Linked DNA regions of Homo sapiens: region 1 is linked to region 2. Evidence: fine-mapped expression QTL. A gene starts in region 2. The other region holds a variant in brackets. All regions are shown on one strand. Distances are between the middles of the regions. Region 1 has its middle 160 kb from the start of CDKN2B. Region 2 holds the start of CDKN2B (cyclin dependent kinase inhibitor 2B).

Evidence for each region. PIP is the estimated chance that this variant, and not a neighbour inherited with it, causes the effect. A credible set is the group of variants that fine-mapping cannot tell apart.
Region 1: its variant is the best candidate, but not a certain one, in a credible set for the expression of CDKN2B in whole blood (TOPMed, PIP 0.73).

Annotation. Positions count from the first base shown.
Region 1 is chr9:22,167,279-22,172,670 of GRCh38, reverse strand. No RefSeq gene overlaps it. Among named protein-coding and RNA genes, the nearest start is that of CDKN2B, 160 kb to the right of the region's middle. The variant G/A (reference allele first, on the strand shown) is at 3,146.
Region 2 is chr9:22,006,227-22,011,618 of GRCh38, reverse strand. It overlaps CDKN2B (cyclin dependent kinase inhibitor 2B), which reads left to right and starts at 2,314. Exons shown (of 2, transcript NM_004936.4): 1 at 2,314-2,821; 2 at 5,372-5,392. The coding sequence starts at 2,666. All of the region lies in intron 1 of CDKN2B-AS1 (CDKN2B and CDKN2A antisense cis and trans regulatory RNA 1), which reads right to left. RefSeq lists silencers at 355-649, 2,773-2,972.

The sequences.
Region 1 (5,392 bases), 160 kb before region 2:
GCCTGGGCAACATAGTGAGACTCCACCTTTACAAAAAATAAAAAATATAGCTGGATATGATGGCACACAGCTGTAGTCCCAGCAACTCAGGAGGGTGAGGTGAGAGGATCATTTGAGCCAAGGAGTTGGAGGCTACAGTGAGCTATGATCATTTCACTATACTCCAGCCCAGACAATAGAACAAGATCTTGTCTCTTTAAAAGAAAAAAAAAAGTAATAAGTAAATAAATACCATTTTTTTCTAAGAAACTAGTTTTTTTCTTGTCAATCTTAGGTGATATTTAATAAGCTTGGGGCTGTATATATATTAGGTTTCTCTGTTGTTTGGTATATTTATCACCAACCATGGTATATTTATCACCAACCATGGTATATTTATCACCATGACTCCACAATGTACAGGGAAAGACTTCTAAAACTAGAAAGTAAGAAGGAAACGCTCCCTTTTCTGTCCTCAAACAAAATTGTTAACGACCTTCCAAAATTCATTCCAATATTCTTTTTCATCTTCTTTAAACATGGTCATATGGGTTTTGTAAATATTGCCTTCTAAGAAGAAAAGATTGTTCACTAGCAATGAAGGCATTCATTTTTTAATTAGCAAATTAATAAAAACATCAATTAGTAAGTTTCTTTAATGTCAATAATGAAGTTAGGGGACATCAGCCCTTATCACTGACTTATCACACAATAAAAAGGTTGCGTGATAATAGGACAAAAAGGGTTGTGTTCAAATAATCATGCTTATCACCTTAGACTTCCAAGGGGCTATAAAGTGCTCTAGCTATCTTATGCCTCCCCTTCCAAGTGTGAAGCTGATAAGAAGAGCGGTCCTCTCTCTTACTGATTGCAGGCCTAAAACAAAAACAGTCAATTGCCTTTCCTGGCTAACAAAGTCACCTCTAAACTGAGGGTGATATCATAAATTCTTTATTATCTGGAATGGTTAATTTTCTGTGTCAATCTGGCTAGTTGACGGTGCCAAGTGTTTTGTCAAACACCAGGCTAGATGTTGCTGTGATGCTATTTTTTAGATACAATTAACATTTAATTAGTAGACTTTGAGTAAAGCAGGTTGCCTTCCATAATGTGGGTGGGCCTCATCCAATCAGTGGGAGGCTGTAACAGCACAGACTGAGGTTTCCTGAACAGGGAGAAATTCACCTTAAGATTGCAACACAAAAACCCTGGCTGAGTCTCCAGCCTCTTGCCCTGTGGAATTCAGGCTCAATACTACAATATCAACTGTTATCTGAATTTCCAGGCTTCAATCACATAAGCCAATTCATGTATATTCACACACTATTTTAGGGTTTCCAAAGTTTTGGTGAATGAAAAACAAATGACTCTTTTTTAAATTTAAAATAGTTCAAGCAGATGATGTTTCCAATTTCACATTTTATACATCTATAAATAGCACCACATTTTTCTCTCACTTCCTCCTTTGAAATACACAAATGGCTTCCCAACCCTCCAAATCGCTACTGTGGCCTAACTAGGCCCTGTGTGATCTGCCCCAGATAGAAAGTTCAACTAACAGTACCACTATCAACAGACATTTGCACAAATGACTTTCTCCTGCTGGGTATGAACAATCAGTAGAACAAACAGCACCTCAGTCTGTGCCCTTGTGAGCACAGAATTAAAACAGCTGGACATGCATGCTCTTAATCAATCGTTTCCATAGAGTAGAGTATCTGAATGAATTGTCCTTTTCCTAGATAGTTATTTCTATGCAGTCAACTGGGGCCTGTCCTCAGAATCAAATTACCTTGAATTCTGAGAACTTCTGGCTGCCTGATGAAAAGGCTTTATTTATCGGCATTCACTTTTCCAGACTCCATTTCTATAACTGGATCTGTTTCAACCACATGACATTATCATATGAGTGTTAAACTATGACTGTTCTGTTTTTCTAAGGCACACACCCTGATCACTTTGGGGGAACTTGAGAAACACCTTGGTGCCTATGACTAATTAGGATGGCCATCTTGGTCTCATCAGCAGCACATTTTGAAAATTTACTTTATGGTATCATTTTAACTTACTGCCCTAGAGGGTATATTATATCCACTTTTGATCTATTTATTTATTTCACTGTGAGCAGGAAACGTTTTCTGATACAGTCCCTATATTTGGAAAGTAATGCTTCCATTAGGACCTCATGCTCCTCATATACTAACTAAGCATTATTTTCCTTGAATCCATGTGGATTGTCCCTATCTCTGAGCCATCCAGCAGCCTCTCCTAAACTCATCTAATAATCCTTCTATTGTAAACACATTTGGAAGAGGTTAGGTCATCCCATTCCCACCCATTACCAGGAACAGTGCCATGTTTACCTTTTGAGCAATATACTAGTAAAATTTCACATGACAGAAGCAAAAATCTGTAGAAATTAACCAAAAAGAAAGATTAGTCAGAAAATAAATGTCTGGAAAGTTGCAACTGCACCTAAGTTATCAGGGAGACTGTAATACCATATTTCAGGACCTCAACTCACACATGCAGGCACCCACAGACACTTAGGCACACACATGACCACTACAACGACAACAAGAAAAGGGGACAAACTTCACATAATCCTAATCACTTAATAATGCAGGAGAAAACATTTATCTAATTTATCAAAATCTAAATTTGTGGCTATAAGAATTAAATACATCAACAGAAAGAAGAAGGTTTATATAGGACCCAGAAAAAGAGAAGTAAAAAACAAGAAGTGGTCAGAGTACATCTCCTACATCATCCAAGGAGGGGGTGCCTTGAACCTTGAGCTTGGAAATGTTTTTCCACTAGGCAGATAAAAAAGATAATAGTTTATACTCTTATAGTTCCTATTTTATGCCAGGAAAAAGTTTTAATACTATACATTCACTAACTCATTTAATATGCATAACAGTCTATAAGTAGGCACTATTAGTATCCCAATTTTCAGATTTAAAAGCTGAGTCACAAAGAGTTTACTTATATCACTTGCCCAAATCCAAGAGTAGAGCTGGATTTGAATCTAGGCAGTCTGATGCCAGAATTGGCTCTCTAACATTAGAATATAGTAAAAATGGAAAAGACAGCTTCCTTTTATTTTTGGGAAGAGAGAAGAGAAAACAAGCATTTGTTGCAAACTTTTTGATTGCTAAATATC[G/A]TGGCAGAAATTTTACATACATTCTGCTGGCAACAGCCCTATGAGTCATATCATCTGATCCTTATTTTACACTGATAGAAACTAGGCCACTGGGATTTCCTGGAGGATCCAGTTACTTTCTTGGGGATCACTGGGAATTTATAAAAGTAAAAACCAGTGTGTTTGTTCCCTTCATTCATCATAAAACTAAGCAACAAGCAAAGTTCCTTTCACTCATTGCATCAGCAACAAGCAAACTGGCCCTAGCAGGAAGACCGAATCTTGAGACTGTGGTTCATTTCTTCATCTGATATGGATCAATGGATCAGCTGATAAAATACACACACACACACACACACACACACACACACACACAAAGACACAAAGGTAATTCAGTTATCTGTTTTCTGAACTGGTCAAATTGAGATGAGTATGACTTAATAAGACCATATTCTTATTATGTGAGTCAACAGAAAGAGTTCTGTTTAACTAAAAAGATGTCTCAGAATCTACAGAATTGAGCATGTTTTCAATCCATCCAGTTGCTCGGTTAGCACCATGAAGACTGGTTTAGATGTAGGAGATAAGGTTCAAAGTTATAATAAAAATTAAAAATTAAGCGGGAGCAAAGATCAACACCCATGAATCTCTCCATGTATGATGATCCATCCAGAGACCTTCCTTTTAAACAAATTTACATTTTCTTTTAATGACAAAAATCATGTATTTTATAAAAGGTCCTATAGAAAACAAAGATTCAAGTTGGAAGACCCTAAAACTTACAAACCTATGATAATCATGTTAGTGTCTGAGGCTAAGACAGCATTCTACAATGCATATATTTTAGATAACATTTGAATCACACTATGTACATATTCTGGGGTTTTTTACTTCCACTTTATCCTGAATATTTTTCTGTGTTATTAAATATTCTTTGAAACTTAAAGACTGCACAATATTTACAACATGGCTCTCCGGCATGGGCATACCACAATATATCTTCTATTTTTGGACATTTATGTTATTAACCAGTTTTCTCTATCATAAACCAACAAGATGGAGGTTGCAAGGTCACCAACTCATTATTCTGAAAATCGATTCATAGAGGGGAAAAACAAGTGTATACATGCTTTTTCAGCATGAACTGTTTTAGGGTAAAAAATTGTTGGAGAGAGAAAGATTTTCTTTACAGAAAATTACTATCTAATTAATGTGAAATAATCAACAGAGTTAGAAAAATACCATTTTATAAATCTTAATGAAATTATAGATCTAGGAAACAGTCACTAATGAATGTTATAACCATTAGGTAAAATTTCAGTGAGGACCTCGATAATGGAGGACTCACCAGAACCTACTAATAAATCTTAACATCACTAAAAGTGGAGTAACCAGAAGTTACATGCCTTCTGGTGTCGTACAACAGGAGTACAGAATCTCAGATATAAAGTATTCTTGCCAAAAAATAAAAATAGAAATGAGCCTGACTCTAATCAATCCTTCCACTTTAAATACTAGCTGATGGAAAATAAGAGTGATACAGGAGGAAAAAAACAAATGATACCATAAAGTAGCCATCAACTAGATCTAGAATGCGAGACATTCTACAGGACAAAATACTTAATTTATTTATCAAATAAGTAACAGGAGAAAGAGGGAAGGGGAAACTGTTATACATTGAAAGAAACTTAAGAGGCCATATGAATACCACATGCAATATGTAGACCTTGTTTGGATTCTAATGTGAACAAAACAGTTGTAAAAAAGACATTCTTGAGACAATTGAGAAATTTGAGCCTAAACTTGTTCAATTCTCTTAAACTTAATAATAGCCTTTGGTTACTTTTTAAAGCTTTTATTATACAGAGAGCTTACAAATAAAATAATAAGAAGCTTTGGATTTGCTTTAAGGTAATCCTGTAGAGAGAGAGAATAAAATAGATAAAATAAGACTAGAAAAATATTAACAATTTTCAAAACTGGGTAGTGAGTACATAGAGATTTATTATAATACTCTTTCTACTTTTATGTTGATGGAAAATGTCAATAATAAAAAGCTTTTTTAAAATATCAAAATACAAATATATGTACATTATATATTTATATTTTGTTGTTGTTTGTTTGAAATTTCAACTAAAATCATAGAGTATATTTAAGGAAGGAGCATTATAAGTCAAAGACATGAAGTTCTTTGAGGTTTTTATTTTTTTGTTTTGGGGTTTTGTGGTTTTTGGGGGTGGAATTTTTTTTTTTTTTTTTTTTTTGAGA
Region 2 (5,392 bases):
ATTACTTTTTTCCAGTTAAGCCTACCATGACAGCTGCTAAAAAAAACACTATGTAGTATAAAGGGTAAAAAGACTCTGAAGTCGCAAAAGTTATACCCACCTCCAACAATGATTAGCTAGTATACAAGTCACTCAAATTCTCTGATCCTTTTGGCTTGTCTGTAAAATTGAAATATGGACACATGCCACAGAGGAGTTTTATGAGTATTAAATGAAACAACAGCTGTAAAGCACTTCGTACAGAGTACACAATAAGTTTGATTTCTCTTCTCGTCTTCTAAATATAGACTATATAATATTCTTTATACAGAGAATATTAGATAAAATCCAATCATATTTGAAAACCAGGTTGAGCAGGTTGGTTTTTCAAAGAAATTCATTGAGCTTCCATAATGTCCTTTCTATTTGACGGGAGAAAAGGGGCTTTGGAAGATCAAGTGTGAAGCTTTAGAATTCTGTCTGGAGCTGGTTAGGACCACCCAGGCCTGAGTATAAGCAAAGCGCTGTCCGTGGTGCTAGTAAGCGCGAATGCCCCCGGCAACGTTTTCCCTACCCAAAGTTGTTTTTCATTCAGTCAACTTGCTTCGCGAAGCTCACACATCTGCCTCGTGCAAGATTCTCAGTCATTTTACTTAGTCATTGGTTCTTTCCCTATCACCATTCTTTATGTCCCCCTCAAAGAAAAACATTATCTTCCATTTCCTTATCAACTCCAAACAGCTTTCATTTTTCTGACATATTTACTACCTAAGAAAATGGCTCAAGAATTGGGTCAGACTATCTTGTCCTAACTTTTCTGATAAGTTTCAGAGAAACTCAAAGGTCAAAACAAGAGCATAAGAGTAAAAGGTAGAGAAATTAAGAAACTGAAGACTAGGAAATGGGGGTTGGATGGGAAAGAAAAAGAAATTGTTATTAATGCTACCCGGTTCCCTTCCCTGTCCAGGTGGATTTCAGCTCTGTTGAGGCTCTGTCAGTAGATTTTCAGCCCTAACCAGCACTTCCATGGTGGTGGCACTTCCACTGCCTTTAAAAGAAAGAGCTTTTTTTAATTCTACAGGGATTTGGGGGATGAGGAGTCAGAGCTAAGGTATCCTAAAAAAAACATGTGAAGACTCTCATTTTGCAATACACAAGCAATTGCCCTCCTGTTAAGACTTTGTCTTCCTCAGCACTCCGAACCAAAATGATTCTGTAAACAAAAATTGTTCACTTTTAGGAGAGGTCCACTTATGCAGTTCCTCACCAAAGTTTTTAGGCAACAAATCCATAACTTGCGGTTCTCTTCCTATCCAATGTAGCATCCGCTGAAATGTTTTAAATATTTTAAGTAATAAATGTTGATTCAAACTCACCTAGGAAGATTAGGAAGGGGAAAAAAAGCACTTGGCATTTAAATCTTCAGAAGAGAATTTAATGACAGGTTCAGCCTGTTTAATGACAAGCCCAGCACCACACCCCTCTCTTATGATGTTTCATTATTACTGCATAAATTTCCTTTATTACTCATGATAAATAAAAATAAGATACCTGACAAAGTGGGTTTAAATAGGTAAGAGTGCAAACAAAGATTTACTGTACAAATATGATGAAACTGGGATCTCAGATTCTTAAAGTATAATTTTTTTTTGTCTTATGTGTGCCAGGTTGCCACTCTCAATCTCGAACTAGTTTTTTTCTCTTTTAAGGGTTGTATCCATAATGCAAAAATGGAAAGAATTAAAAAGCACACGCAAAACATGATTCTCGGGATTTTTCTCTATTTTTATGGTTGACTAATTCAAACAGAAAGACACATCCAAGAGAAAATTGCTAAGTTTGATACAAGTTATGAAACTTGTGAAGCCCAAGTACTGCCTGGGGATGAATTTAACTTGTATGACAGGTGCAGAGCTGTCGCTTTCAGACATCTTAAGAAACACGGAGTTATTTTGAATGACTTTCTCTCGGTCACAAGGGAGCCACCAACGTCTCCACAGTGAAACCAACTGGCTGGCTGAAGGAACAGAAATCCTCTGCTCCGCCTACTGGGGATTAGGAGCTGAGGGCAGTGGTGAACATTCCCAAAATATTAGCCTTGGCTTTACTGGACATCCAGCGAGCAGTGCAGCCAGCATTCCTGGCGGCTCCCTGGCCCAGTCTCTGGCGCATGCGTCCTAGCATCTTTGGGCAGGCTTCCCCGCCCTCGTGACGCGTCGGCCCGGGCCTGGCCTCCCGGCGATCACAGCGGACAGGGGGCGGAGCCTAAGGGGGTGGGGAGACGCCGGCCCCTTGGCCCAGCTGAAAACGGAATTCTTTGCCGGCTGGCTCCCCACTCTGCCAGAGCGAGGCGGGGCAGTGAGGACTCCGCGACGCGTCCGCACCCTGCGGCCAGAGCGGCTTTGAGCTCGGCTGCGTCCGCGCTAGGCGCTTTTTCCCAGAAGCAATCCAGGCGCGCCCGCTGGTTCTTGAGCGCCAGGAAAAGCCCGGAGCTAACGACCGGCCGCTCGGCCACTGCACGGGGCCCCAAGCCGCAGAAGGACGACGGGAGGGTAATGAAGCTGAGCCCAGGTCTCCTAGGAAGGAGAGAGTGCGCCGGAGCAGCGTGGGAAAGAAGGGAAGAGTGTCGTTAAGTTTACGGCCAACGGTGGATTATCCGGGCCGCTGCGCGTCTGGGGGCTGCGGAATGCGCGAGGAGAACAAGGGCATGCCCAGTGGGGGCGGCAGCGATGAGGGTCTGGCCAGCGCCGCGGCGCGGGGACTAGTGGAGAAGGTGCGACAGCTCCTGGAAGCCGGCGCGGATCCCAACGGAGTCAACCGTTTCGGGAGGCGCGCGATCCAGGTAGCTGGGGCCCCAGGGCCTCGCCGGCAGGGGGCGCGCGAACGCGGGGCGCGGCCTCGGCGGATCGGGGCTGGAACCTAGATCGCCGATGTAGATTTGTACAGGAGTCTCCGTTGGCCGGAGGTGTGCATTCCACGCGTAAAACAGGCTTTTACCCAGCAAAAATCCTAAAGAGAGACATTGAAAAACCCACTGTTTAAGCTTTTTTTAGTGGTTTTTGTTCTGCCATCTCATGATCAGAGATGCAAGGAATAGACTGAATTGGGGAGAAAAGGAGAAAAGGAAAGCTTATTTAGGGAAGAAGATTATCTTGTCTGTCTGCTTTCAACGATAAAGATAAGTAAAGTATAAGTTACGCATTCTAGATTGGATTTAAGGAATTCTACAAAATCATAGTACATGGAAAAAATCAATGTAAACTTCTAAGCTACTATATGAAATCTGTTGTATTGTTTTCTCATAGAGGTTAATTGAGAATGAGACGGGATTCCTCAACCACAGTACTTAGTTCCTTTTATGTTAGCAGTGTCTTATGAGTGATGCATAAGAGAAAAAATATATAGTTCTATAGGTTTCTCATTCTTTAATTATCATACTCAGTGCCCAGATTACAAAAATATTCCTGCAGCAACTGTTAGGTCCTTTTTGAATGGCAAAGGATCTTCATAAATAATGCATCTTTATCTTCATTGTTAAAATACACTTATTCAATGTTTAAGTACGAATCCTGCTTTAATTAGTACTGATATTTTTTATTTCTTTTACAATCTCGGACAACTCTTTTGTACTTTACCGTTGGCTAGTGGTCATATTCAGTACTCACCTCACTATCACCCTCTAAAACTAAGCTAATATTAAGGGATCTTGTTAATAGTATAGATTTTAAAGAAGTGTTCATTTCTTTTGAATTCTTAGAATAATGGTATAACAAATGAGGGATTTTTAAAGGAGCAAAAATATTGTAAAGTGCATCTTAAAAACTTAAAATTTTATTAATAATTATAAAAACAAGTTATATATGTAATTCACCATTTTCTGAAATACTAACAGCAGCTATTTTCCCCTTTTTTTCTATGTAAAATATCCTTACATCACTAGTAGATATAACTTATCACGGTTTTTAAGAGATGAAATGAACATTTCTAATATTAATGAAACAAGCCAACAAAACATGAGAAGTATACTGCCTTTCAATTAAATGGTATATTTTAAAGTGCATAAACCCATAACAAATAACTCGATTTTAGACATTTAGTTACCAAAAATTGTCTTATAATTGACTTTAAATATGACAGCAAATGTTTTCATAATGTTCATGTACACAAATGGCTGCTACAGGATTACTCCTGCAAAACATCATTTTTTCTAAGTTATGCATCATCCTGATTGACTGCTAACATCCAAGCTCTATTTATTTATTTATTTATTTTATTTTTTTTGAGATGAGGCCTCACTCTGTCGGACAGGCTGGAGTGCAGTGGCACAATCTCAGCTCACTGCAACCTCTTCCAGGATGCAAGCGATTCTCCTGCCTCAGCCTCCTGAGTTGCTGGGACTACAGGCACGCCCCACCATGCCCAGCTAATTTTTTATTTTTTGTAGTAGAGACGGGATTTCACCATGTTGGCCAGGCTGGTCTCGAACTCCTGACCTCAGGTGATCTGCCTGCTATGGCCTCCCAAAGTGCTGGGATTACAGGCATAAGCCACTGGGCCTGGCCCAAGCTCTTTTTATATAGCAAAATATTTACTGTTTAACATTTTTAAATCTTAGCTATTATAAAATCCTGTAGTATACAAATATAGTTAGTTTTATATTACATTAAAAATATTATAGTCTAAATTTAAAATGATGAACTGTTAAGGAAAAATCATTTATTATAATTTTATAAGATTTTGCATGATTTAATTTACTTTTCCCTTCTAATCTCCAACTTTGGCTCAAATTATCACACTACAAGCCAGTTATGAGCTCAGACACATGACAAACAAAAGCCTTCCGCACGGGATTTGCTATGAGAACTAAATAAATTAAAAAAAAAAGAAAGAAAAAAACTTAGTTGTTTATTTTCTCCCCTAAACCATTACTCCCAACTTCTAACAAACAGTAGTTGACTACCTAATAAATATTTGTAGACCTGGATTATGGAGGAGGGGTCAGCAAGGCAAATAATTTAAAACTTTAAAAGCCGAATAAATTTAACTCTGCCCCTAAATCATTTAACAAAATAGATTCCCATGTTCCAATGGAAATCAAGATTTGTTTTTCCATAATGATGATCATCACTTTACCATCAACTTTCTTGTCTCTGCACGTTTAGAGAATAAAATGGCATTTAATTTGTACTGAGTATAACCTGAAGGTGGGGTGGGAAAGTGGATTGCATCAGCAAATGAAGAAACACCAGACATCAGAGACCTGAACACCTCTGCACTGGGTGAAAACTTTGCAATTAGGTGTTTCTTTAAATGGCTCCACCTGCCTTGCCCCGGCCGGCATCTCCCATACCTGCCCCCACCCTGGCTCTGACCACTCTGCTCTCTCTGGCAGGTCATGATGATGGGCAGCGCC